3 separate regions of the Homo sapiens genome follow, and all the other regions are linked to region 1. Evidence: fine-mapped expression QTL. A gene starts in region 1. Each other region holds a variant in brackets. All regions are shown on one strand. Distances are between the middles of the regions.

What was found.
Region 2: its variant is fine-mapped to the expression of ZNF264 in whole blood (TOPMed, PIP above 0.99).
Region 3: its variant is fine-mapped to the expression of ZNF264 in whole blood (INTERVAL, PIP 0.98).

Annotation. Positions count from the first base shown.
Region 1 is chr19:57,186,635-57,194,813 of GRCh38, forward strand. It overlaps ZNF264 (zinc finger protein 264), which reads left to right and starts at 4,866. Exons shown (of 4, transcript NM_003417.5): 1 at 4,866-5,312; 2 at 7,241-7,367. The coding sequence starts at 5,280. RefSeq lists enhancers at 4,702-4,761, 4,782-4,871, 4,882-4,941 and a silencer at 5,112-5,381.
Region 2 is chr19:57,223,380-57,231,558 of GRCh38, forward strand. It overlaps AURKC (aurora kinase C), which reads left to right and starts at 7,644. Exons shown (of 7, transcript NM_001015878.2): 1 at 7,644-7,927. The coding sequence starts at 7,870. The variant A/G (reference allele first, on the strand shown) is at 4,500.
Region 3 is chr19:58,171,398-58,179,576 of GRCh38, forward strand. LOC124904784 (a long non-coding RNA gene) reads left to right here. Exons shown (of 2, transcript XR_007067360.1): 2 at 5,140-6,192. Among named protein-coding and RNA genes, the nearest start is that of ZNF274, 7.6 kb to the right of the region's middle. The variant A/G (reference allele first, on the strand shown) is at 4,227.

The sequences.
Region 1 (8,179 bases):
GGAGGCCAAGGTGGGCGGATTATGAGGTCAGGAGTTCAAGACCAGCCTGGCCAACACAGTGAAACCCCATCTCTACTAAAAGATATAAAAAATTAGCCAGGCACAGTGGCGGGCACCTGTAATCCTACCTACTCAGGAGGCTGAGGCAGGAGAATTGCTTGAACCCAGGAGATGGAGGTTGCAGTGAGCCAAGATTGCAACACTACACACCAGCCCGGGTGACAGTGCCGAGACTCTGTCTCAAAAAAAAAAATTATTGTGGAGGAATGGTCTCACTATGCTGCACAGGCTAGTCTCTTAACTCCCGGCCTCAAGAGCCGGGTCTGTCCTGTAGACCCTGGCTGAGCGATGGATGAAAGGAGTACTCAGACACAGGTATGTAGTGTAAGAGCAGCTAGGGGACTGCTGAAGAGTGAGCAGTCTTGATAAGCTGGGACTGCTTGCTTTTATTCAGTACAGACATAATGCCAAAAGCCTGGAGCCAACACAGTCTGTGGGTAATTAACATTATTGTTCCCCCTTTTGGGGGCAGCCTCACTCGTGAATGATCAAATGTTGGTTCCTAGTTAACATAAGTAAACAAGCCTGTTTATGTTAAATTCCCCTACACTTCCTTGTACCTACTCCTTGCCCTCTGCCTTAGGGTAAGAGAACAGCTGCTTTCAGCTTATTCTCCCGTGAAGCTATGCAGAGACTTCTGACCTTTCAGAAGGTTTGCGTCCTTTTCTTATAGCTTCTCCCACCACTCTGACCGATCTCCTACACTCAAGCAATCCTCCTTCCTCAGCCTCCCAAAGTGCTGGGATTACAGGCATGAGCCACCGCACACCACCCCCATTTCTTGCAGTAAAATATGTGTGTGTGTGTGCGCGTGTGCGCGCGTGTGTATTCCATTTCTCCCTAATACCATTTCTCAGCTGCATGAATCCTTAACTCATGAAAGATACTTTTTATCCTCTTGACTCTACAGTTAATGGAAAATAAAAATCATCAATAGTGACTTCTAAGATTGCTTAATATACCTTTCTGGGAGGACAGTTAGAACTCCTAATGTGAGCTTGTCAGTTTCTTGTGAAAACCAACCCAGTTGTCCCATAGAACTGATGTTTGTGGTTTCTTTTGACTGAACCTAGAAATTGACCCTCCCACTCTTAAAACTTGAGAAAAGTACATTTGTCATAATCGTTTGTCACAGAAATAACCAAATTTCCTTGTCCATTGTTTTTTAACTATGGTTGTCCTAAGACTTTTGTCATCCACAATTATTGTTTGACTTTGAGTCTTCTCCAAAGGTGGCTTACAGTCAGCTACAGTTCAGGGCTTCTTTGAGAGAGTTCATAAAAAGAACACTTGAATTCAAGTTTCTGGTAACTTTGGAGATTGTCCTATCAGCCTAGAGAGAAAACTTCCAGGACTCTAATTAGAAGGCTGATATATTCATAAAATACATAATTATGTATACATATGTTTATGCAATATGAAGCAGAGCAGGAGTTTCATGGACTGTACTAATTTATTTCATGATAAATAAAAATATTTTATTATATAGTATATTAAGCCATCTTAGAAGTCACTGTTGATGATTTTTTTTTCTCCATTAACTGTGGAGCCAAGAGGGTAAAAAGTATCTTTCATGAGTTAAGGATTCATGCAGTTGAGAAATGGAATTAGGGAGAAATGGAACACACACACACAAACACAGAGATTTATTTCAAGTACTGAATTTATTTTATTATTTTTTGTGTGTGTTTGAAACATTGCTGATTCTTTTTGTTTTGTTTTTGAGTCAGGAGAACTTTTTTTGTAAATCTACTTTCTGTCTCTATGAAACTTTTTTCTTTCCAGCTATTTATAGCCTTTAACAATTGAATATACATTTGTAAACAAAATTTGAGGGCTATTTCTCTCTCTGCCTGATTTCTCCAGAATTCAGAAACTATTTGTGAATATTCTTAATTCACGGCAATGTGGTTGTTTGCATATGTTCAATAAGAATCTGTTTTCTAGCTAGGTGTAGCATATGTTCAATAAGAATCTGTTTTCTAGCTACTTGGGAGGCTGAGGCAGGAGGATCGCTTGAGCCCAGGAGTTTGAGGCTGTAGTGAGCTATGATCGTGCCACTACACTCCAGTCTGGGTAAACAAGCAAGACCCTATCTCTATTTTTTAAAATCCATATTATTTTATAACACAATTGTAGGCACTGGGTCTTTTCCCAAGGCTTTGACAGGAATGGCATATTTTTAACTATGCGAGACTGCTTTGAGGAATTAAGACTGACTTTATGGGCCAGGCGTGGTGGATCATGACTGTAATCCCAGCACTTTGGGAGGCCAAGGCGGGTGGATCACGAGGTCAGGAGATCGAGACCATCCTGGCTAACATGGTGAAACCCCATCTCTACTAAAAATATAAAAAATTAGCCGGGTGTGGTGGCAGGCGCCTGTAGTCCCAGCTACTCAGGAGGCTGAGGCAGGAGAATGGCGCGAACCCAGAAGGCAGAGCTTGCAGTGAGCTGACATCACGCCACTGCACTCCAGCCTGGGCGGCAGAGCAAGACTGTGTCTCAAAAAAAAAAAAAAAAAAAAAAAAAAAGACTGACTTTATGGAGCTGATGGGAGCCCTTGGAAGGACTGGCCTCATATCTTGTGCACACAGTTCCTTTGTGGGGTTCCTGGCCTGTAGTAAATACAGTGTCATTTTCTGATAGGCCTAGGAACCTCAAGATGTTCTGGGGCCTCAAGAAAAACGGGTTTCACCCAATTCATGCAGGTATGTACAGGTGCAGACAGATCTTTGGCTGGGCTTAAGAGGTCTTTGGGTGTTGAGTCTGAGAGATTCCTTATGAGGGGTTCCAGCAAAGCCAATTTAGGAGGAATTGTATAAACAGTGATTCTTGCTGTAGTTTGGATAAGTATGGTGGGACTGAAGCTTGTTTTGCAGGTAAGTTGTTCCTGCTGTGATTTGCTTTTGATGGAAGTCAGGGACTAGAGAGAGAAAAACTGTTTCCAAAGAAAACTATAGTGCTGCCAGGTGCAGTGGCTCAACTTTGGGAGGCTGAGGTGGGCGGATCATGAGGTCAGGAGTTTGAGACCAGCCTGGCCAACATGGTGAAACCCCGTCTCTACTAAAAATACAAAAATTAGCCAGGCATGGTGGTGGGCACCTGTAATCCCAGCTACTCGGGAAGCTGAGGCAGGAGGATCGCTTGAACCTAGGAGGCAGAGGTTGCAGTGAGCGGAGATCGTGCCACTGCACTCCAGCCTAGGTGAAAGAACAAAACTCTGTCTCAAAAAAAAAAAAGAAAGAAAGAAAGAAAACTATAGCGTTAGATTAACCTTTGAGTTAATCTGAGTGGCCACGTGGTCATCTATGGTATGCAGCCACCCACAATACCCCTCCTCAGCATAAAGCAGCCAGAAAGATCACGTCCAGATTCCCCATGATTGAGGAATTGATAAATAGAAACAGGGAACTGAAACCAGCTCCAGTGTCCCATAGAACTGATATTTATGGTTTCTTTTGAATCAACACATTATAGACATTGAGCCTCCCCTTCCTAAAACTCGAGACACTTTTATTTGTCTTATCTGATTTCCTTTCTCAGGAAACCAAGCATCAGGCCTCCCAGATAGTATAAAGAAACTGAAACTTACTGGATTACCACATCTGGAAAAACGAGATGCTATACCCCTTACCCATGATGATTGCCTAACTGACCATCTGCTGCCTGTTGACCCATTCCTCTTCCTTACCCCTTCCTAATTCCTGTTTTCTCAAACATAGTTACACTTCTTCCCTGATGTATAAACCCCTAGTTTTAGTCAGTTGAGGAAAGAGATTTGAGATTGATCTCCCATTTTCCTCAGCTGCAGCACCGAATAAAGCCTTCATCCCTGACAATACTCATTGTCTTGCTGACTGGCCTTCTGTGCAGCAAGCAGCAGGATCTAGATGCAAGGACCTGGCCTTTCTGGTAATATTGTCATCAACCATTTAATGATGTAGACTTGGTCCCCGGCTCATGCTCTGTGTATTTTCTTCTCCATCTACATGCATTGCCTTGATGGTCTCACTCAATATCATGACTTGAAATAACAGTGTAAGGTAACTCCTAAATTCATATATTCATGCTCAAACCTTCTTCCAACATTCAGTCGTAAGTCGAATTGCCTGTGACAGAGATACTTTGTGGTTCTGTAGACATTTCAAACTAACCATCCTGAGCCTCCGAACCTCCTCCACTTGCAGCCTCCCCACCTCAGAAGTGGGCAAATCCACTTTTTGTGTGGTCTGGGCCAAATACATGACTCCCTGCATCACGTAGAGGCTGTGCTGGTCCAAAGAAGGCTCAAAAGAGGGCAGTTTGCGCACACAACGTGTCGGGGCAGGGCTTCCAGATGATCATTCGGCTTTTTTGTGTCTTCCAAGATGATGATCCGGGGAGGAGGGATGTGAAAGGGGGTCAGTCGCCAGGCGAGCTGAGGACCCAGTTCTGCGCCTTTGCCTGTGCCCTGACCTGAAGGAAAGTCCCTGTCTCCCGAGCTCCGATTTTCCCGAGAGAAGAATGCAATGTAACCCTTGCCCCTCGGTTCCCTCCCTCCATCCTTCCCCTCGAGTTGTGCCCACCGTAAAGAGGTGGGTCTGGAGCGTCTCCTCGGGTCCTGGAGTGCCTTTCCCTGGGAGGAAAACTTGCGCCGTGAAGCGTTCCTCCCGTTGTTGAACACATGAGGAAAACTACACTACTTAGAAGGCTGTGCATTATGCGTACGGCGGGAGCTGGGCCAACGACGGCCTAGGACGGGGACGTTTCCGACGGCTCACGCCGGTGGGGGCGGGACTTCCGGGTTGCTCGCTGCGGACGCCATTTTCTTCTGCACTTCTGTCTGGAGAGGTCTGTAGCCACTGAGGGCCCCGGTCGGGGCCGCTTTGCAGGTCCCTAGTCAGGACCGAGCAGGGGAGTAGGATAGGAATCCCCGCCGCACCTTTGTACGAGCCTGACCCCTTCCGTGGGTTTGTTCCTGGGTCGCCGTCAAGCTGCGGTCTCTCCTCCCCCGCCCTTCAGCCCCGCGGTCTCCAGGGGCGGCGCCCTGGGTCTGGAACGCGGTTGCCACCGAGGAGGCGGCGGCCCTGCGTCTGGAACGCCGTTGCCACCGAGGAGGCGGCGGCCCCGAGCGCGCCTGGAAGCCCCGGGCAACCGGCCAGGGTCGGGCACAGGTGGGGTCCGTCAGGCCGCCCGGGGCTCCTCTGTCCCAGCTCTGCGGCCCAGGGGGTGACGTGATGGCGGCAGCGGTGCTGACGGACCGGGCCCAGGTGAGTGGACGGTGGCTTCGCGGTTGCCGCTTCCTTGCCAGCGCTGAGGCGGTTTCCGAAGTGGGTGGGAGCCCAGGTATCCCCTGGATTTGTCTTCGCAGTCGTCGTTCGCTTTGGTGTGTGGAGCTGGTTTGCCACTTAATTTATACCTGGCCGTAAGGAGTGTTGGGCCTACTGGAAGGAGCTCCGTAGGTTGTTGAGTGAATGATGCTTCCTCTGGGGACTCCCATCATCCTTGGCCTGCAAGCATTCTCTGGTGGACCAGGTCTCATTCCAGCATGAATTGGGGGCCTGAGGGGGGAAGGGGAGGGCAGGGCAGTAGCAAGCCGACAAATGCGCGAGCAGAGACAAGGTATGTTGTATGTTTAAGGAGGCTCAGGAGGGTGTGTAAGGTTGCCATGGTTTTCCTGCGGCCGCTGAGACGTGGAGGGCAACAGTGTGTGGTCTTTTCCTGGATGTTCTAGCCATCCGCAACTACTGCAGACATTGTGGCCAGTCAGATGCCCTTACTCTCATCGCTACAGCCTGCATTATCCTTGGCCGCTCGTGTTCCGTGGCCCCAAAGTATCCTGGCGTCAGAGACAAGTTCTGTCGGAACCCAGTAAGGAAAGAGGCCGATGGTTGGTTCATTGTGGAATTTCCTTGGGGGATCTGGGAGACCCAGGGAGATCCCAGAGGGCATGGGAAGCTGGTCTGGAGCCTGTCGTTCCCCAAGTAGATGCAGCCCTTCCAGTGCCGCTCTGTGGGGTCAGTGAGGAATGCTGAGCTTTTTGTGCCCGTGTTCACATACTTTTTTTTGTTTTGAGACAGGGTCTCACTCTGTCGCCCAGGCTGGAGTACAGTGGTGCACTCTCAGCTCACTGCAGTCTCTGCCTCCCAGGTTCAAGCAATTCTCCTGCCCCAGCCTGCCGAGTAGTTGGGATTACAGGCATGCACTACCACACCTGACTGATTTTTGTATTTTAGTAGAGACTGGGTTTCACCATATTTGCCAGGCTGGTCTTCAACTCCTGGCCTCAAGCGATCCGCCCACCTCGACCTCCCAAAGTGCTGGGATTACATGCATGAGCCACCATGCCCGGCCCACAGATACGTTTTTCAGGGCTAATTGAAATAGACTTAATGTTAGAAATGAGTGGAAATGCTTATAACTTCATCGCATTAGATTTGCTTTGATGTTGGGGGAGTGTTGGAGTTACACTGTTAGACCGTGAATCATAGTAACCCCATGTTTAGATCCTATCTATGGTGGTGAGATGTGTGACTGGGTGAATTGATAGCGCTTCCTTAGCATGAAGTCATTGACTGTGAAGGTGATGATGGTGTTGACTGCAGGGACTGTGAAAGGATTAATAAAAATCCCAGAGCACACTGAGCATTGAATACTTTAAATTTAACAACTGTTACTGGTGGGAAGTGTTATTGTATTGATCCAGAAATCAAGGCTCAGAGAAATGAAATGCTGTCTTTGAGGTAAGAGCTGTCAAGTGTCAGTTTCAAGTGTTTGGAGCTAGGAACTTCTAGTCACTGTGTTTACACAGGATGTGAAGCCTTCAACATGGGGCAGGCACCTAGCTGGACCAGTGAGACTCAGGTACTGCCGTTGTAACCATTATTGCTATTATTACCATTTCCCCATTTCCCTGTCGTTTTAGAGCCCTTAGCTTCTGTATTTCACAGTCCACAAGTTGTTTCCGTTGTCCTGTGTCATTCTCTAACGGCCGTTAAATAGGAGGCTTCTCTCCTTTACTCTGGTATTATGTTAAAAGCATCTATCTTCCCTCTTGAGCCCAGCACAGAGCTAGGCCCTCAGGAGGTGCTCTGTGATTCAGGCCGCCATCACTGTACACCTTTTCCAGTGGAGCACAGTCTGTGATCTCATTCAGCAGCTGAAAGGCCAATACTACTAATTCTGTTTGACTTTCCAGGTGTCTGTGACCTTTGATGATGTGGCTGTGACTTTCACCAAGGAGGAGTGGGGGCAGCTGGACCTAGCTCAGCGGACCCTGTACCAGGAGGTGATGCTGGAAAACTGTGGGCTCCTGGTGTCTCTGGGTAAGGCCTTCCTTCCCCCTCCACCATGCAGGTGACCTGCCACTTCCTTCATTCCATCTTCTGACTCCAGGCCTGGCTGCACAAGAAGGCCTCTAGAATCTACCTTGCCTCTTTCCCACAGCTTTAGTCATTTTCCACAGTAACCTCTTCCTATCTGGTCTCCTATATCTCTGGGCTAAAGACAGGGTACTCTTTGGCTCCCAGCCAAAGGAGAAGGTGGTAAAAGGAAATGGGGTGTTTTGCAAACTCAAAGGTAATTTTCAGCTGTGCCTCATGAGGGGCTGGTGTAGGAACTGAGAACCACCACGATGGTGTCCTGGCTTCTCTGTCTGGGTCTGCTCATGTCACGTCTATTCTCTATGGCTTTTTCTGCCTTAGTGAGTTCAAGACAAGAGTGGCCACCTGGATTAGGGTTCTCTAAAGGGACAGAACTAATAGAATAGATATATATAAAAAGGACAGTTTATTAAGTAGTAATAACTCATGATTACAAGGTCCCACAGTAGGCTGTCTGCAAGCTGAGGAGCAAGGAAGCCAGTCCAAGTCCCAAAGCTGAAGAACTTGGTGTCCAATGTTCGAGGGCAGGAAGCATCCAGCATGGGAGAAAGATGTAGGCTGGTAGTCTAGGCCAGTCTAGTCTTTTCATGTATTTCTGCCTACTTTATATGCTGGCCTCGCTGGCAGCTGATTAGATGGTGCCCACCCAGATTAAGGGGGGGGTCTGCCTTTCCCAGCCCACTGACTCAAATGTTGATCTCTTTTGGCAGCACCTTTACAGACACACCCAGGATCAATACGTTGCATCCTTCAAT
Region 2 (8,179 bases), 37 kb after region 1:
TGTGAGAACTTGCCAAAGACAGTTGAGGGGTAGGGCTGTGGAATGGCTGGTTTGCATGTGACAGGCAAGATAGCGGAGGAGAAATACCCTCTTGAGTAAGGGTTACGAGCCATGGGCCTTGTGTTGACTGGCCAGGTGACTTTAATGAAATTTTGTCACCCAGGCTGGAGTGCAGTGGCACATTCATAGCTCACTGCAGCCTCAATCTCTCGGGCTCAGGTGATCCTCCCGCCTCAACTTCCTGAGTAGCTGGGATTACAGGTGCTTGCCACCATGCCCAGCTGATTCTTTTTTTTTTTTTTTAAATCTAGAGATGAGATATCTGTGTTCGAAACCCAGTCTGGTGTCGAACTCCTGAGATCAAGTGGTCCTCCTGCCTCAGCCTCCCAAAGTGCTGGGATTACAGGCATGAGCTACTTTGCCTGGCTCAGCATGTGTTTTTATTCTGATATTTTGACAAATGAGACCTTGCTGATCCTGGAGACACTGCTCCTCTTAGAGGTAGCAAAAGTCTCCTCCGCTTTTGCTAAGTTATGAATTGCTAAGCCAATTCATAACTTGTTTATTCTGCCTTACCCATTTCTTCACTCGAAAATGGCAATACAGCCCGGGTGTGGTAGCTCACACCTGTAATCCAACACTGGGCGCCCAAGGCAGGAGGCTCACTTGAGGCCAGGAGTTTGAGACCAGCTTGAGCAACATAGCCAGACCCCATCTCTACAAAAAAAAAAAAAAAAAAAAAATTCACGGGGCACAATAGTGCACACCTCTAGTTGCAGCTACTTGGAGGCTAAGATAGGAGTGTTACTTGAGCCTGGGAGTTTGAGGCTGCAGTAAGCTGTGACTGAGCCACTGCACCTCAGCCTGGACAACAGAGCAAGACCCTGGCTCTTTAAAAATAAAATGAAGAAATGATAACACAGGCTTTACCCACACTTTCCCCTTCCTCCTGTCTCCTAACCAACCGTGAGTCTTCCCTGTTTAGCCCTGTGTGGCTTCATATACCCCCTCTTCATGGGAACTATGAGTTACACACTCATCAGTGGCAGTCTTCTGATCTGTTGGCATCGTCAACGCTAAATAATAAAATCTACATTTTAAAAAACCTACCTGAAAGCACTCATGAATTTCAAGAATTTAGCAAAGCAAATCAGCCATTTCCATGTCATTTCCAAAGAACTGTGTCAGTGCACCAAGCCAAATGTGATACTTAGGTTGGAACTCAGTGGACAGCCATGGAAGGAGGAGGGGGTCAATGCCAAAGAGGGGCTCTCCAGATGCATTGGTAGGACCCAGGCGTTTGAGGGACCATTGTGTTAGCAAAATCTCAACCATCTGAGGGGTTGGGGTTTTTAGGAAGGTAGCTCCTGATGCCCTTCTCATAGCCCGACACTCAAGAAAGCTCAAGCACAACTAATTGAGGGCCCCAAATACACAACACCTTCCGATATCATTCTCCCCGGGCCACTTCTTAATGTTTGCAAGTTTGAAGGAAGAATGCCATCTCCCGGCCCGACCACATGGTGTTTTCTTGATTATCCTCCCTTTCATGGGCATCCTCCCTCCTTTCTTAAGCCTTTAGCCATTTGTAGCTGTGTGGTCTTTCAACATCTCTGTACTCTTGTTCTTCCTAGTTCCATGTCCTGGCTCTCAGGTATAAGAACTCACATATGTTCAAAGTGTGTCTCTTGATCTTTGAAATTAGGCTTCAGCAGTGACAGTAATCTTTTTTCATCTCAGTTTCTTGACTTTTGGCATACATGTCATTTCAGCCACCTACAAGCCTATTTTCCATCTGCATGTTCTTTTGCTGTGTGTGTGTGTGTGTGTGTGTGTGTGTTTGACATAGGATCTTAGGCTGGGCGCGGTGGCTCACACCTGTAATCCCAGCACTTTGGGAGGTCGAGGCAGGTGGATCACTTGAGATTAGGAGTTTGAGACCAGCCTTGCCAACATGGAGAAACCCCGTCTCTACTAAAAATACAAAAAATTAGCTGAGTGTGGTGGTGCATGCCTGTAATCCCAGCTACTCGGGAGGCTGAGGCAGGAGAAATGCTTGAACCCGGGAGGTAGAGGCTGCGGTGAACCAAGATTGCGCCATTGCACTCCAGCCTGGGCAACAAGAGTGAAACTCCATCTCAAAAAACAAAAAACAAAAAAAAAATAGGGTCTTCTGATCATGGCTCACTGCAGGCTCAGCCTCCCAAGTATCTGAGACTACAGGTGCACATCACTATGCCCAGCTAATTTTTAAATTTTTTGTAGAGATGGGGGTCTCCCTGTGTTGCCCAGGCTGGTTTCAAACTCCTGGGCTCAAGCAGTCCTCCTCCCCTGGCCCCCAAAGTGCTGGGGTTACAGGCATGAGCCACCGTGCCTGGTCTTCATCTGCATGTTCTTTTGTCATTTTCAAACCCTTTCTGAATTATCCTCACACTTCTTGAGTATCAGACATCACCAGTCTGATCTTCCATATGTCCCTATGTCTGTATGGGCTTCTCCAGCTTTGAGTTCTTTGTCTTTTCCTCACTCTCTTCCTCTAATGGAGGAGCCTCTTGGGGCTCATGTCACGCTCCCATTACCTCTTCCTTGTGTTATTTCTCTCCACGTCCCGCAACTCCCCTCTCCTTGTAAACTCCCCGGCTACAGCACCACGCTTTTTACCACTCTGGTGAAGGTCAGCAGTGGCTCCCTGTTTATGAATCCTAAGTCCTTGTCTTTTCTGGGCTATGGACAGGACTTGAAACTGTTGTTGTCCAGTCCTTTCTCCAGATGTACTCTTGGATTCTGTAAGGTTATGCTTCTGGTTTTCTCCCCTGCACCCTCTCACTCCTTTTCCCCTTTCATGTTGGTGCATCCACGTGTATCCAGCCATTTGGTGTTGAATTTTTTTTCTTTTTTTTTTCTCTTTGAGACAGAGTCTTGCTCTGTCTCCGGGCTGAAGTGCAATGGCATGATCTCGGCTCACTGCATCCTCCGCCTCCCAGGTTCAAGTGATTCTCCCGCCTCTGCCCCCTGAGTAGCTGGCATTACAGGCATCTGCCATTATGCCCGGCTAATTTTTGTATTTTTGTAGAGACGGGGTTTCACCATGTTGGCCAGGCTGGTCTTTAACTCCTGACCTCAGGTGATCCGCCTGCCTTGGCCTCCTAAAGGGCTGGGCTTACAGGCATGAGCCACCGTGCCTGACCGGTGTTGAAATTTCTAAGGCTTTGTCCCAGGCCTCTTTTTTCTCTTACTGGTCTCTCCCCAGGCCTCATCTGCACTCTTGGGTTCAGCTACCTACTTTAGTGAACATACCCTAAAACGTATTTCCCCAACCCTCATCTCATACAAGTCTTACTGCTCTCCTTTCACTCCATGCTTCCCTTTCCTTTTCCCACTCGAGATGGAGCTTCCACCACCTGCTTTGCCCAGTTAGCAAATGTGTATCCTTCATTTTGTCCCAGAGAGCACACCTTCACAGAAGCCCACTAGAGCACCCAGCTAGCTCATACCCATTCTTTCATGATTATCTATTGATTTGTTTGGTTATTGAATAATGACCGTATCCTGAACTCAATTTCCAGCTTCGAAAAAGCACAGACCTTGATCTAGATTTTCTCCTAATGTTCCATGTGCATAGTTTGTAGTCAATAGTATGTATTCAGATATTTGTTAGGTGAATGAGCCTTAATCATTTTTGACATTTTAGGTTATGTGACATTCTCTCCCCAGTACCACCTCAGGCTCGATGATTTGCCTGAAAGTCAAAATTCAGAAAAGAAAGTCACACACAACTCAGAAAAGCTGTTGTACTCATGGTTACAGTTTATTACCACAAAAGGATAGAGACCAAGATCACCAAAGGTAAAAGGCACATAGGAGGAAATCTGTGAGAAACCAGGCACAATTTTTTTTCTTTTTTCTTTTTCTTTTTTTTTTTTTTTTTTTTTGAGATGGAGTCTCGCTGTGTCACCCAGGCTGGAGTGCAATGGCACAATCTCGGCTCACTGCAACCTCTGCCTCCCAGGTTCAGGTGATCCTCTGCCTCAGCCTCCCAAGTAGCTGGGATTACAGGCATGTGCCACCACACTGGCTGATTTTTGTGTTTTTAGCAGAGATGGGGTTACACCATGTTGGCCAGGCCAGTCTGGAACTCCTGACTTCAAGTGATCCACCCGCCTTGGCCTCCCAAAGTGCTGGGATTACGGGTGGAAGCCACTGTGTCCAGCACAGGCACAAACTTAGCAGGTGTTCCCTCCCAGTGCAGTTGCACAAGGGCACACTGAATTCTCCCAGCAAAGTTGTGTGCAACACATTCACAGTATTGCCAGCCAGGGAAGCTCCCCCAAGCCTTGACGTCTAGAGTTTTCGTTAAGGGTCATTGAGGTAGGAATGCAGAACCCACATGAATAACCATAAATATCCAGTCTACAACCCTTGCAGAAAACAAACATATAGCATGGCCCAGGGCCTCATGCATGCAAAAGCCAGCATCCACCATGAATCATATTGTTAGC[A/G]TAAATTATCTGGTCAAACGTGCAGCAGGACCTACTTATGGTTTTCGACATAAAAATCTTACCAGGCAAGATACCCCAAGAGGTTGTTTTCCTGAAGTTGGCCCTAATTCATTCTAGGGTCAGATATCAGATAGCTGCGGACAGTGCCTGTGTCCTAAAACCTGCCAACATTATTCACAGTAGCAAATCCTATTCTGTTTATGCTGCCCCTGCCCTGCCTTGCCTTGCCTTTCTGGTGGAAAACACAGCGCAGGCTCTGGGCCTTGCTTTCTCCTCTGCTGCTGCTTTCTAACCTGCTCTGGTGCTTCCACCCGCATGGTGTGCTCTGCCTCCTGTTTCTAGGGATCTCTTACTATAAACTTCCTCCATAATAATCACTTCTGTATCTGATTGTCACACCCTGCCTGACTAAATACAATCCCAGGTATATTCTAGAATACACAGGGAGCCTATTACAACATCCTTGGGCCAGGCGCAGTGGCTCGCGCCTGTAATCCCAGCACTTTGGGAGGCTGAGGCAGGACTGCTTGAGCCCAGGAGTTCAAGACCAGCCTGGGAAATATAGTGAGACCCCATCTTTAAAAAGAATAAATTTTTAAAAATTGGCTGGATGTGGTGGCATGCACCTGTGGTCCCAGCTACTTGGCAGGCTTAGGTGGAAGAATTGCTTAAGCCTGGGAGTTCGAGGCTGTAGTGGGCCATGATGGTGTCACTGCACTCCAGCCTGGGTGGAAGAGTGAGACTTTGTCTCAAAACTAAAAATAAAAATATGACCTCCTTACTGTGGCCTCCAGGACACTACAGAATTCACGTCCATCTATCTCTGTGATTCAGTTTATCTTCAGCTGCAGCCATACTAACCTTGTTGCACTTCCCCAAACACGACAGGATCCTCCTGCTTTCATTCCCTTGTCTTAGGTGCTCTCTCTATGAGACCCTGTTACCTCAGATGCTCCATTCCTCCAAGTCCATGCTCAGATATAACTGTCTTTTAGACATTTCCCAACTACTCTACCTCCCTCTAACCTTCTATATTGTTTACTTTTGTGGTTGTGGTTGTTCTTTTTGAGTTACTGATTGTTGGAATTAAAAGGTCCCCGAGGGCCAGGGACAGTGGCTCACGCCTGTAATCCCAGCAATTTGGGAGACTGAGGTGGGTAGATCATCTGTGGTCAGGAGTTCGACACCAGCCTGGCCAAAATGGTGAAACCCTGTCTCTACTAAAAATACCAAAATTAGCCGGGCGTGGTGGTGTGCACCTGTAGTCCCAGCTACTTGGGAGTCTGAGGCAGGAGAATTGGTTGAACCTGGGAGGCAGAGGTTGCAGTGAGCCGAGATCGCACCACTGCACTCCAGCCTGGGCGACAGAGTGAAACTGCATCTCAAAAAAAAAAAAAAATTCCTCAAGTACAGGAATGCATAATTATTTTGCTATGTACATATCTGATTTTTTAGAGCAGTGCCTGTTGCAAGATAGGCACTCAATCGATACTCATTAAATTAACAATATACACATATATAAAACAGCACTTTCACATGGTTATGAGTGACCTAAGGAAAAACAGAACAGGATGACGTTGTAGTGGGGGCTGTTTTAAATTGACAGTTTGGAGCTGGGCGCAGTGGCTCACACCTGTGATCCCAGTATTTTGGGAAGCCGAGGCGAGTGGATCACCTGAGGTCAGGAGTTCGAGACCAGCCTGGCCAACATGGTGAAACCCTGTCTCTACTAAAAATACAAAAATTAGCCGGGCATGGTGGCAGGTGCCTGTAATCCCAGCTACTCAGGAGGCTGAGGCAGGAGAAATGTTTGAACCTAGGAGGCGGAGGTTGCATGAGCTGAGTTCGAGCCACTGCACTCCAGCCTGGGTGACAGAGCAAGACTCCGTCTCAATAAACAAACAAACAGACAGGTTTGGGAAAGCCTCTGAGAAAGGAATGGTTGGCCTGAGCTAAGCGCCATTACCCTGATCCACCTATTGTAACCACCTAATGGGTTCATTATTTTCCCTGCTCCCCAGATAGAGTCGACTTATCAAGACAGGATAATTGCAATAAAGGGTTTAATTCACATCAATCGAGCTAAATGAGAGACCAGAGTTTTATTACTCAAATAGGTCTCCCCAAATATTTTGAGACGAGCTTTTTTGTTTTTGGGTTTTTTTGTTTTTGTTTTTGTTTTTTTTGAGACAGAGTCTCGTTCTCCTTCTGTCGCCCAGGCTGGAGTGCAGTGGCATGATCTTGGCTCACTGCAACCTCCGCCTCCAGGGTTCAAGCGATTCTCTTGCCTCAGCCTTTTGAGTAGGTGGGATTACAGGCATGCGCCACCACACCCGGCTAATTTTTGTAGTAGAAACGGGGTTTCGCCCTGTTGGCCAGGCTGGTCTCGAACTGCCTACCTCAGGTGATCCGCCCGCCTCGGCCTCCCAAAGTGCTGGGATTACAGGCATGAGCCATCACGCCAGGCCTTCAATTATATTTCTGCAAGATATGTTCCCTGTCTAAAAGAATTCAATTTTTAATGTTTTTGAAACTTATGTGTTTGCTAAACAAATACGTGGGGGCTGATTTTACGATCTGAGGCCAAATCCACAAACTGATTACAGGGTCCAACAAATATTTGGCGAGTGGGAGGAGAGGGGTAAGTGAGCTGGACTGGTGGCGTCCTGGCTGTGAGCAGGCACAGCCGCAGGCTTCAGGGAGCCCCATCGCGGTGACCCTGGAGAGTGGCCTGAATCGGACGTGACCTTGAAGCAAGGTGGTTTTGGGGTCGCCGGCTGCACAAGGCGCGAAGTGGTTTAGGGTCACGGGCTGCACGAGGCTCCAGCACGTCAGGAGTGGGCGTCTGTTCATTCCCACGTGCATCGCGGCTCTCTCCTAGTTGACGCATGCACACCCCGTGGGTGTATGCGTTGTTCATTCCCACAACGGCCATCACCACCTCTCCGCACCCTCTGTCTCCTTCCTTCTCGGGCCTCACCCCTGGCCCTCGCTTTCAGTGCCCAGCCCGGACCGCAGCACTCCAGTTCCGCCCCAACCCGGGAACCCTGGACTGAGGCTCCCGTTTCTGTCCTTTCTATTGGGCGCACTTCCGATGGCGTCAGGAATTTCAGCCAATAGGAGCCAGCCAGGAAGTACCTCTCTGAGCGGTTGGTGCCGGGTATAAAAGAAGGCCGCGCAGCCACGGCTGCTCACGACGCCGCGGATCCCGAAGCCTGTGTAGCAGTGAGACATCAGTGAGGCTGCAGGACGAGCAGGATTGGAAGCGCCCCGGCCAGAAAGTGACCCCCCACCCCTTTCAGGACCCTGTGAACGGGAACAGCCATCCAGAGGGTTCAGGAAGGCGTCCGCGCCCTCACCTCTTCTCCCCATGAGCTCCCCCAGAGCTGTGGTGCAGCTGGGCAAAGCTCAACCTGCAGGCGAAGAGTGTGAGAGCCAGCGCCAGAGAAAGGACGCAGGGAAGGCTGGGGACTGGGCCAGGGGTCGGGTGCACAGAAGACACATGTGTTGACATCTCCCCTCCCTCTCCTCCTCCCCAACGCTCTTCTTTTCTCCCCACTCCCTCCCTTCCCTCCAATTCTTTCTTTCACCTCTCCCTCCCCTACTCTCTCCTCCCCTTCCTTTCTCTCTGCCTCTTCTTCACCTCCTCCTCCCCTCCCTACCTTACCTTACTCTTTCTT
Region 3 (8,179 bases), 980 kb after region 1:
CTCCTGTCTCAGCCTCCCGAGTAGCTGGGATTACAGGCGCCCACCACCACGCCCGGCTAATTTTTGTATATTTAGTAGAGACGGGGGTTTCACCATGTTGACTAGGCTGGTCTTGAACTTCTGACCTTAGGTGATCCACCCGCCTCAGCCTCCCAAAGTGCTGGGATTACAGGTGTGAGCCACCACGCCCGGCCAATATGGCTCAACTTCTTTCAAGAGACTGGGCTTTTTTTTTCTGTATTAGTTTCCTATCACCACTGTAACAAATTACTACAAACTCAGTGTCTTAAAACAAGAGATAAGAGAAATATTAAAGTAAGACAAATAGATTCTCTCATTTCTGGAGGCCGGAAGCATGAAATCCATACCTGGGCCAAATTCAAGCCTTGGAGGCTCCAGGAGAGAATTCATTCCTTGCCTCTTCCAGCTTATGGTGGCTGCTGGCTTTTTTTTTTTTTTTTTTGAGACGGAGCCTTACTCTGTTGCCCAGGCTGGAGTGCAGTGGTGTGATCTTGGCTCACTGTAATCTCCCCCTCCCGGGTTCAAGCGATTCTCCTGCCTTAGCCTCCCGACTAGCTGGCATGACATGCGCATGTCACCACATCCAGGTAATTTTTGTATTTTTATTTTTAATTTAATTTTATTATTTTTTTATTTTTTGAGACAGAGTCTTGCTCTATCACCCAGGCTGGAGTGCAGTAGCACGTCTCAGCTCACTACAACCTCTGCCTCCTGAGTTCAAGCCAGTCTCCTGCCTCAGCCTCCCCAGTAACTGGGGTTACAGGCGTGCAACACCACGTCCAGTTAATTTTTAAATTTTTAGTAGAGACAGGGTTTCATCATATTGGCCAGGCTGGTCTCAAACTCCTGACCTCGTGATCCACCCCCCCTTGGCCTCCCAAAGTGTTGGGATTACAAGCGTGAGGTACCCCGCCCGGCCTATTTTTATTTTATTTTTTTATTTTTTTGAGAGGGAGTCTTACTCTGTCACCCAGGCTGGAGTGCAGTGGTGTGATTTTGGCTCACTGCAACCTCCGCCTCCCAGGTTCAAGCAATTCCCTGCCTCAGCCTCCTGAGTAGCTGGGATTACAGGCGCCTGCCACCATGCCTGGCTAACTTTTGTATTTTTAGTAGAGACGGGTTTTCACTATCTTGGCCAGGCTAGTCTTGAACTTCTGACCTTGTGATCCACCCGCCTCAGCCTCCCAAAGTGCTGGGATTACAGGCATGAGCCACTGTGCCCAGCCAACTTTTGTATTTTTAGTAGAGACGGGGTTTCATCATGTTGGCCAGGCTGGTCTCAAACTCCTGGCTTCAGGTGATCTGCCTGCCTCGGCCTCCCAAAGTGCTGGGATTACAAGCATGAGCCACTGCGCCCGGCCTGCTGGCATGTTTTGACTTGTGACTGCACAGCTCCAGTCTCTGCCTCCACGGTCACATCACCTTCTCCTTTTCTGCCTATGTGTGGTCACATCTGTCCCTGCCTCCCTCTTGTAAAGATACATGTGATTACATGCACAATCCAGGATCATCTCCCCTCTCAAGATCTTTAAATACATATGCAGCCCCTGTCTCTACATAACGCAACATTCATAGGTTCCAAGAATTCAGGCCTGACATCTTTGGGGGACATTTTTCAGCCAAACACACTCTCCTAACTTTTAATCAAAGTCCTGGGCTTCACTCTCCGTCCATGTTCATTGCTTTGACACTTGTCATGGACAGGAGGGTGCCTTGCACTGACTGGCTTGGACCAGAGTGCTTGCATGCCCCTGGATTAATCACTGCAGCAACGGAGACAGAATGAGGCCAGTGGGCCATCCACTGGAGCTGAGATTGAGGGGCAGCTTCACCCATAGCTGCCCAAAAGGGTATCTGGGGTGTTCTGAGGGTGTTCTGGGGTGTATCTGAGGAAAGGGATGAGTGGAAAGGTCTCACAAATGAATCTTTTTTTTTCTTTTTTTTTGAGATGGCGTTTCACTCTTTTTTGATGGGCATTGCCCAGGCTAGAGTGCAATGGCGCGATCTCAGCTCACCACAACCTCTGCCTCCCGGGTTCAAGTGATTCTCCTGCTCAGCCTCTCCAGTAGCTGGGATTACAGTCATGTGCCACCACGCCTGGCTAATTTTGTATTTTTAGTAGAGATGGGGTTTCTCCACGTTGGTCAGGCTGGTCTGAAACTCCCGACCTCAGGTGATTTGCCCACCTCAGCCTCCAAAAGTGCTGGGATTACAGACGTGAGCCACCGCGCAGCCTCACGTGAAAAAGACTTTTCTCTCAATTTCACAATCTGTCTCTCTGTCTCTCTCTCTCTGTCACGTTTTGAAATTCTGGCTTCCCTCCTATACCCAAGGGAGAGCTCACACTTCTCCCTTACCTGAGCGAAATGCCATCTTTCCCTTCCAGCACCCCATTCAATCCTCCACCAGGGTCCCCATGTCCTGGTAGCTGCTCCCTGGATGTTGGGACTTCACTCAGTTCCATTTTTTTTTTTTTTTAGGAGACAGGGTCTCACTCTGTTGCCCAGGCTGGAGTGCAGTGGCCTGATCATAACTCACTGCAGCCTTAATCTCCCGGGCTCGAGAAATCCTCGCACCTAAGACTCCTGAGTAGTTGGGATTACAGGCACATGTCACCATGCCCAGCTAATTTTTAAATTTTTTTGGTAGAGATGGAGTCTCACTATGTTGCCCAGGCTGGTCTTTAACTCCTGGCCTCAAGTGATCCTCCTGCCTCAGCCTCCTAAAGTGCTGGGATTGCAGGCATGAGCTGTTGACCCTCAGTTCCAGATCTTTGCTGGCAGCAAGTCCGGAAACTTCCATCCGGATCTGGTTTGTGGCCTTATAACTTAATGTGAGGAGAGGTCTCTGGGGTAGATGGGCTCCACCCAAGCAGACTTTTGTGCCAGCTACTGTGGCTGTGCCACCCACCTTCATTGCAGCACAGTCTGGCGCCTTCTACAGATGCCAAAAAAACCAGTTACACTCTTTTCCAGCTTTTCTCCCAGCCAGGACATGGATGCATGTGTCAATCCTGGCTAACAGGGTCAGAGCGAGTCAACAACAGAGAAGTCTTCCGAAAATGTTGTATTACTTTTTTTTTTTTTTTTTTTTTGAGACAAAGTCTCACTCTGTTGCCCAGGCTGGAGTGCAGTGTCGCGATCTCGGCTCACTGCAACCTCCATCTCCCAGGTTCAAGCGATTCTTCTGCCTCAGCCTCCTGTGTAGCTCGGACTACAGGCGCGCACCACCACACCCGGCTAATTTTTTGTATTTTTAGTAGAGAAGGGGTTTCACCGTGTTGACCAGGCTGTTCTCGAATGCCTGACCTCGTGATCTGCCCGCCTCAGCCTCCCAAAGTGCTGGGATTACAGGCGTGAGCCACTGCGTCCGGCCAAAATGTTGTATTACTTCTTTGTGGTAGGGAGAGTAATGCCCCCTTTCCTTCAGAGATGTCCTCATTCCAAACCCTGGAACCTATACATATGTTACCTTCGCATGGCAAAGGGGACATTGAAGATGCCATTAAGGATCTGTTTTTGTTTTAGAGACAGGGTCTCACTCTGTCACCCAGGCTGGAGTGCAGTGGTGTGATCATGGCTCACTGTAGCCTGGAACTCCTGGGCTCAAGCGATCCTCCTGCCTCAGCTTCCTGAGTAGCTGGGACCACAGATGCATGCCACCACACCCAGCTATTTTTGTTGTTGTTAAGACACGGTCTTGCTCTGTTGCCCAGACCAGTCTCAAACTCCTTGGCTCAAGCAATCTTCCTGCCTCAGCCTCCCGAAGTGTTGGGATTACAGGTATGAGCCACCATGCCTGGCCAGATTCTTGAGATGGGGAGATTATTCTGAATTACTTGGGGCGGGCCCTATTTAATCAAATGTCTTTGTATAACTTGAGGCAGGAATCAGAGTAGATGATGTGATGATGGAATGAGAGATTTGAAAATGCTACACTGCTGGCTTTAAAATTGGAGGAAGGGGCCATAAGCCAAGGAAGGCAGGTAGTCTCTAGAAACTGGAAAAGGCAAAGAAATGGATTCTCTCCTAGACCCCCCAGAAGGACCACAGTCCTGCTGACATCTTTATTTTAGCCTAGTAAGACCCATTTTGGACTTCTGACCTCCAGAGCTGTGAGACAATAAATTTGTTGTTGTTTTAAGACACAAAGTTTTGGTAATTTGCTACAGTGGCAATAGAAAGCAAATACACTTCCTGATGCCA[A/G]CTTCTTCAGCCAAATGTTGCACGGCTAAATGCTAGACTTGGAACTGTAATCACCATCTTAGGACTGCAAAGACGTGTGCCTCAGAAAGAACCAAGGCCATACACTGGGGAGGGCTGAGCCAAAGGAGGGACAGTGACTGGTTACAGCTCATACTTGAGCCCAGGGGTCAACCGTAGAAGCCCTTACATCTGGATTTAATTACATTTTTTATTTTGTAATTTTTAGTTTTATTTGTGCTGAGACAGAGTCTCTGGAGTGTAGTGGTGCGACTACAGCCTCAACTTCCCAGGCTCAGGCGAACCTCCCACCTCAGCCTCCCGAGTACCTGGATTACAGGTGTACACCACCACACGCAACTAGTGTTTTGTTTTCGTAGGGATGGAATCTCACACAAAAAACTGGGCAAGTATGTTCCCCAGGCTGGTTTTGAACTCCTGGGCTCAAGCAGTCCTCCCACCTTGGTCTCACAGTGTTGGGATTACAGGCATGAGCCACTGTGCCCAGCCTGGACTTAATGAAAAACAAACAAACAAACATTTTTTTTGAGTCAGTCTTGCTTTCTCACCCAGGCTGGAGTGCAGTGGTGTAATCTCAGCTCACTACAACCTCTGCCTCCTGGGTTCAATTAATTCTTATGCCTCAGCCTCCCAAGAAGCTGGGATTACAGGCATGCATCATCACACCTGGCTAATTTTTGTATTTTTAGTAGAGAAAGGTTTTTACCATATCAGCCAGGCTGGTCTTGAACTCCTGACCTCAAGCAGTCCACCCACCTCAGCCTCCCAAAGTGCTGGGATTACAGATGTGAGCCACTGTGCCCAGTCAGTGAAATTTAAGATCATGAATGGTGGCATACTGTCACTTCTGCCAAAACTACACCTTACATGATAACCCTTTCTTGCTCCCCACCAGCTTTTGCTCTCAAGTCTCGTTTGGTCATGCTAAGCCACAGTTTGGGGACTCCTAGGAGCAGCCATCACAGGTAACCAGTTCTGCTGGCTCAGGATGGCCCCTGCTGCCCTGACTCAGAGACACTTCCTGCAAGGCAGACATCTCATGCAGAGCAGAGGCCACTGCAGTCAGAAGGAAGGGCCTGGTAGCCTCAGAGGCACAGCCAAGGGGCTGCAACGATGGAAAGGAGATATTCCACAAGTCCAAGAGTGTGACATGGAAGCACACTCTGGGATGTGGTGGACTCAAGTGATCCATGCAGATGTGGATGCTGTCTCTCTTTCTCTGTTCATAGAGTGTGGCATGGGTCCTCTCTGGGTGAAAATAGGTGCCCAGAATTAATCACACACTTCCATTCAAAATAAACTGTGCCAACTTGCTGAACCACAAAATGATTTCCTCGCCATGGCCCCTAAATAACTCCGTGATAAGAACTGTATGCTATTGATGGCTCTGAAGTCCAAATTTATTGGCAAAAGCAAAGAACATGCCTGAACTAGTCATTTCTGCAGGCGTTTCTCCTTAAGATGAGTTTGAAGCCAATTGGTTATGTGAAGAATAGCAATCAGTTCTTTCTCACACTGGAGGAGGAGGAAGCACAAAAGAAAGTTCAAGGGTCAAGCCTCCCAAAAGGCTCTGTTATAATCCTATGTGCTCTTTCATTGTATCTAGTGATGAATTTGGGTAACTGACACTTTACTCATTGGCCATCTATCCTTGAACTTGATAAGCATTTTCATTTATGTAAGTTTACTTGTAATTCTTCCAAAACTTATCTTCACATTTCCCAACAAACTAATTTCAGACATTTTGTTTTTATGATTCTATTGTGACAGGAACCTCCATTTCAATATACTTGTTGCAGGTATAGATTTTGTGCATTGCTTTGTGGTGTTGATTTGTCCATCTTTTGTATTCTGCCTAGCTTATTGTAATCTTGATTTTTAAAGTTTTCAATTGGGTTTTTAAAGTATGTTAATGTTAATAAATGCATTTTTAGGTTTCCTTTCCCAATCATTACAGCACTCAGGTCTATTTCATATCAGATTGATTGATTTATTAAGACAAGGTCAAGCTCTGTCGCCCAGGCTGGAGTGCAGTGGCATAATCAGGGCTCACTGCAGCTTCAACTTCCTTAGCTCATGATCCTCCTACTTCAGCCTCTTGTGTAGCTAAGACTACAGGAGTGTGTCACCACATCCAGCTACATTTTTTGCTTTAATACAGATGAGGTTTTGCTACGTTGCTCAGGCTGGTCTTGAACTCCTGAGCTCAAGTGACCCTCCCGCCTTGGCCTCCCAAAGTGCTGGGATTATAGGTATGAGCCTGGCCTCATACTTTATTTGTAGTAACAAGAATATCTGGAAAATGTTCAGCATTGCTGAGAGCAGATTTCTGTCATTTTCGATGTGTGTATCCTCCACGGTTATTGAATGGAGGAATAAACAAGAAAAAGACTCAAGAAGAGAGACAGGAGTCAGTTCTCATCAGAGAAGAAAAGGTCGATTTCCTAAGGCAGGAAATATTGAGATGGGTTGTGTTCAGGACTAGCAGGAGGTGTGTGGCTGGCTTGTTCCTTGTCTACATCCTAATGGCCTAAAGAAAAGATGCCCCACACTAAGGACAGCAAGAGGGAAAGAGTGAGCCTCATCCTCCGTGACTTCAGTGGGCAGCTTAACCAGCACCAGAAAAGACCTATACTTGCAGATTTTCTTTGTGGGAAAACGGCGTTGGTTATTTGGGTTTTTATTTATTTCCAACCAAACATGCCTTAACGGATACAGGGTGCAAAGGCATGTACTAGATTATTCCAAACCTGCCTCACTGGTTTGTCCGGCATTCTGTGGACTTCCTGCATTCCTCTTTGAGGCAGGCCGTTTTCTGGAGGTTGTTTGTGATCGGCCTCTGCTCAGAGCCCAAATTCTTAGCCTTTCCCCCATGTGTTATGTCCAGTGTGGATTATCTTGATGGTGAGTTTACCTTTGATGTTGGGGAAAACAGGCAAAGAATGAATGAGCAGCAGTAACCAAAGAGCCTCTTTTCTGGGAAAAAAGCTATGATATTAATAATTTATAGTTCAAATGCACATTAATTTATCCATACTTCTGTAACCTTACATTCCCAAGCTCTCAGAAGTTCAGAGAGGTGTCCTCAAAGCTCACATTTCAAAGATGGAAAGACACATCTTTCTTCTTTTTAAAAATGATTTTAAAATGTATCCCCCTTTACATGGAACAATTTGAGATGCTCTGTGTGATGAAACAGAGACAGAGAATGATGAGTGGAGATCAAATCCTGGGTCCATGATTCAGTTGCACAGCTGGCTTAGGACTCAGTTGAACACCACTAGCTGCCATAATGGTCCAGCTGCCATAATGGTTTGGGCCAACTTATAGCTTTACATATTTTATTCTTAGTCATATGTTGTTTATTTATTATTTATTTATTCATTTATTTATTTTGAGATGGAGTCTCGCTGTGTCACCCAGGCTGGAAGGCAGTGGCACAAACTCGGCTCACTGAAAGCTCCACCTCCTGGGATCATGCCATTCTCCTGTCTCAGCCTCCCGAGTAGCGGGGACTACAGGCGCCCGCCACCATGCTCGGCTAATTTTTGTATTTTTAGTAGAGACGGGGTTTCACCATGTTAGCCAGGATGGTCTCGATCTCCTGACCTCATGATCTGCCCACCTTGGCCTCCCAAAGTGCTGGGATTACAGGCGTGAGCCACTGCGCCCGGCCATATGTTGTTTAATTTAAACCAACAGTAGACCATTGATTTAAAAAAGCATATGGGGCCAGGGGCAGTGGCTCACTCCTGTAATCCCAGCACTTTGGGAGGCCAAAATGGGCAGATCACCTGAGGTCAGAAGTTCGAAACTAGCCTGACCAACATGGTGAAACCCTGTCTCTACTAAAAATATAAAAATTAGCTGGGCGTCGTGGCATCTGCCTGTAATCTCAGCTATTAGGGAGAATGACGCAGGAGAACCGCTAGAAC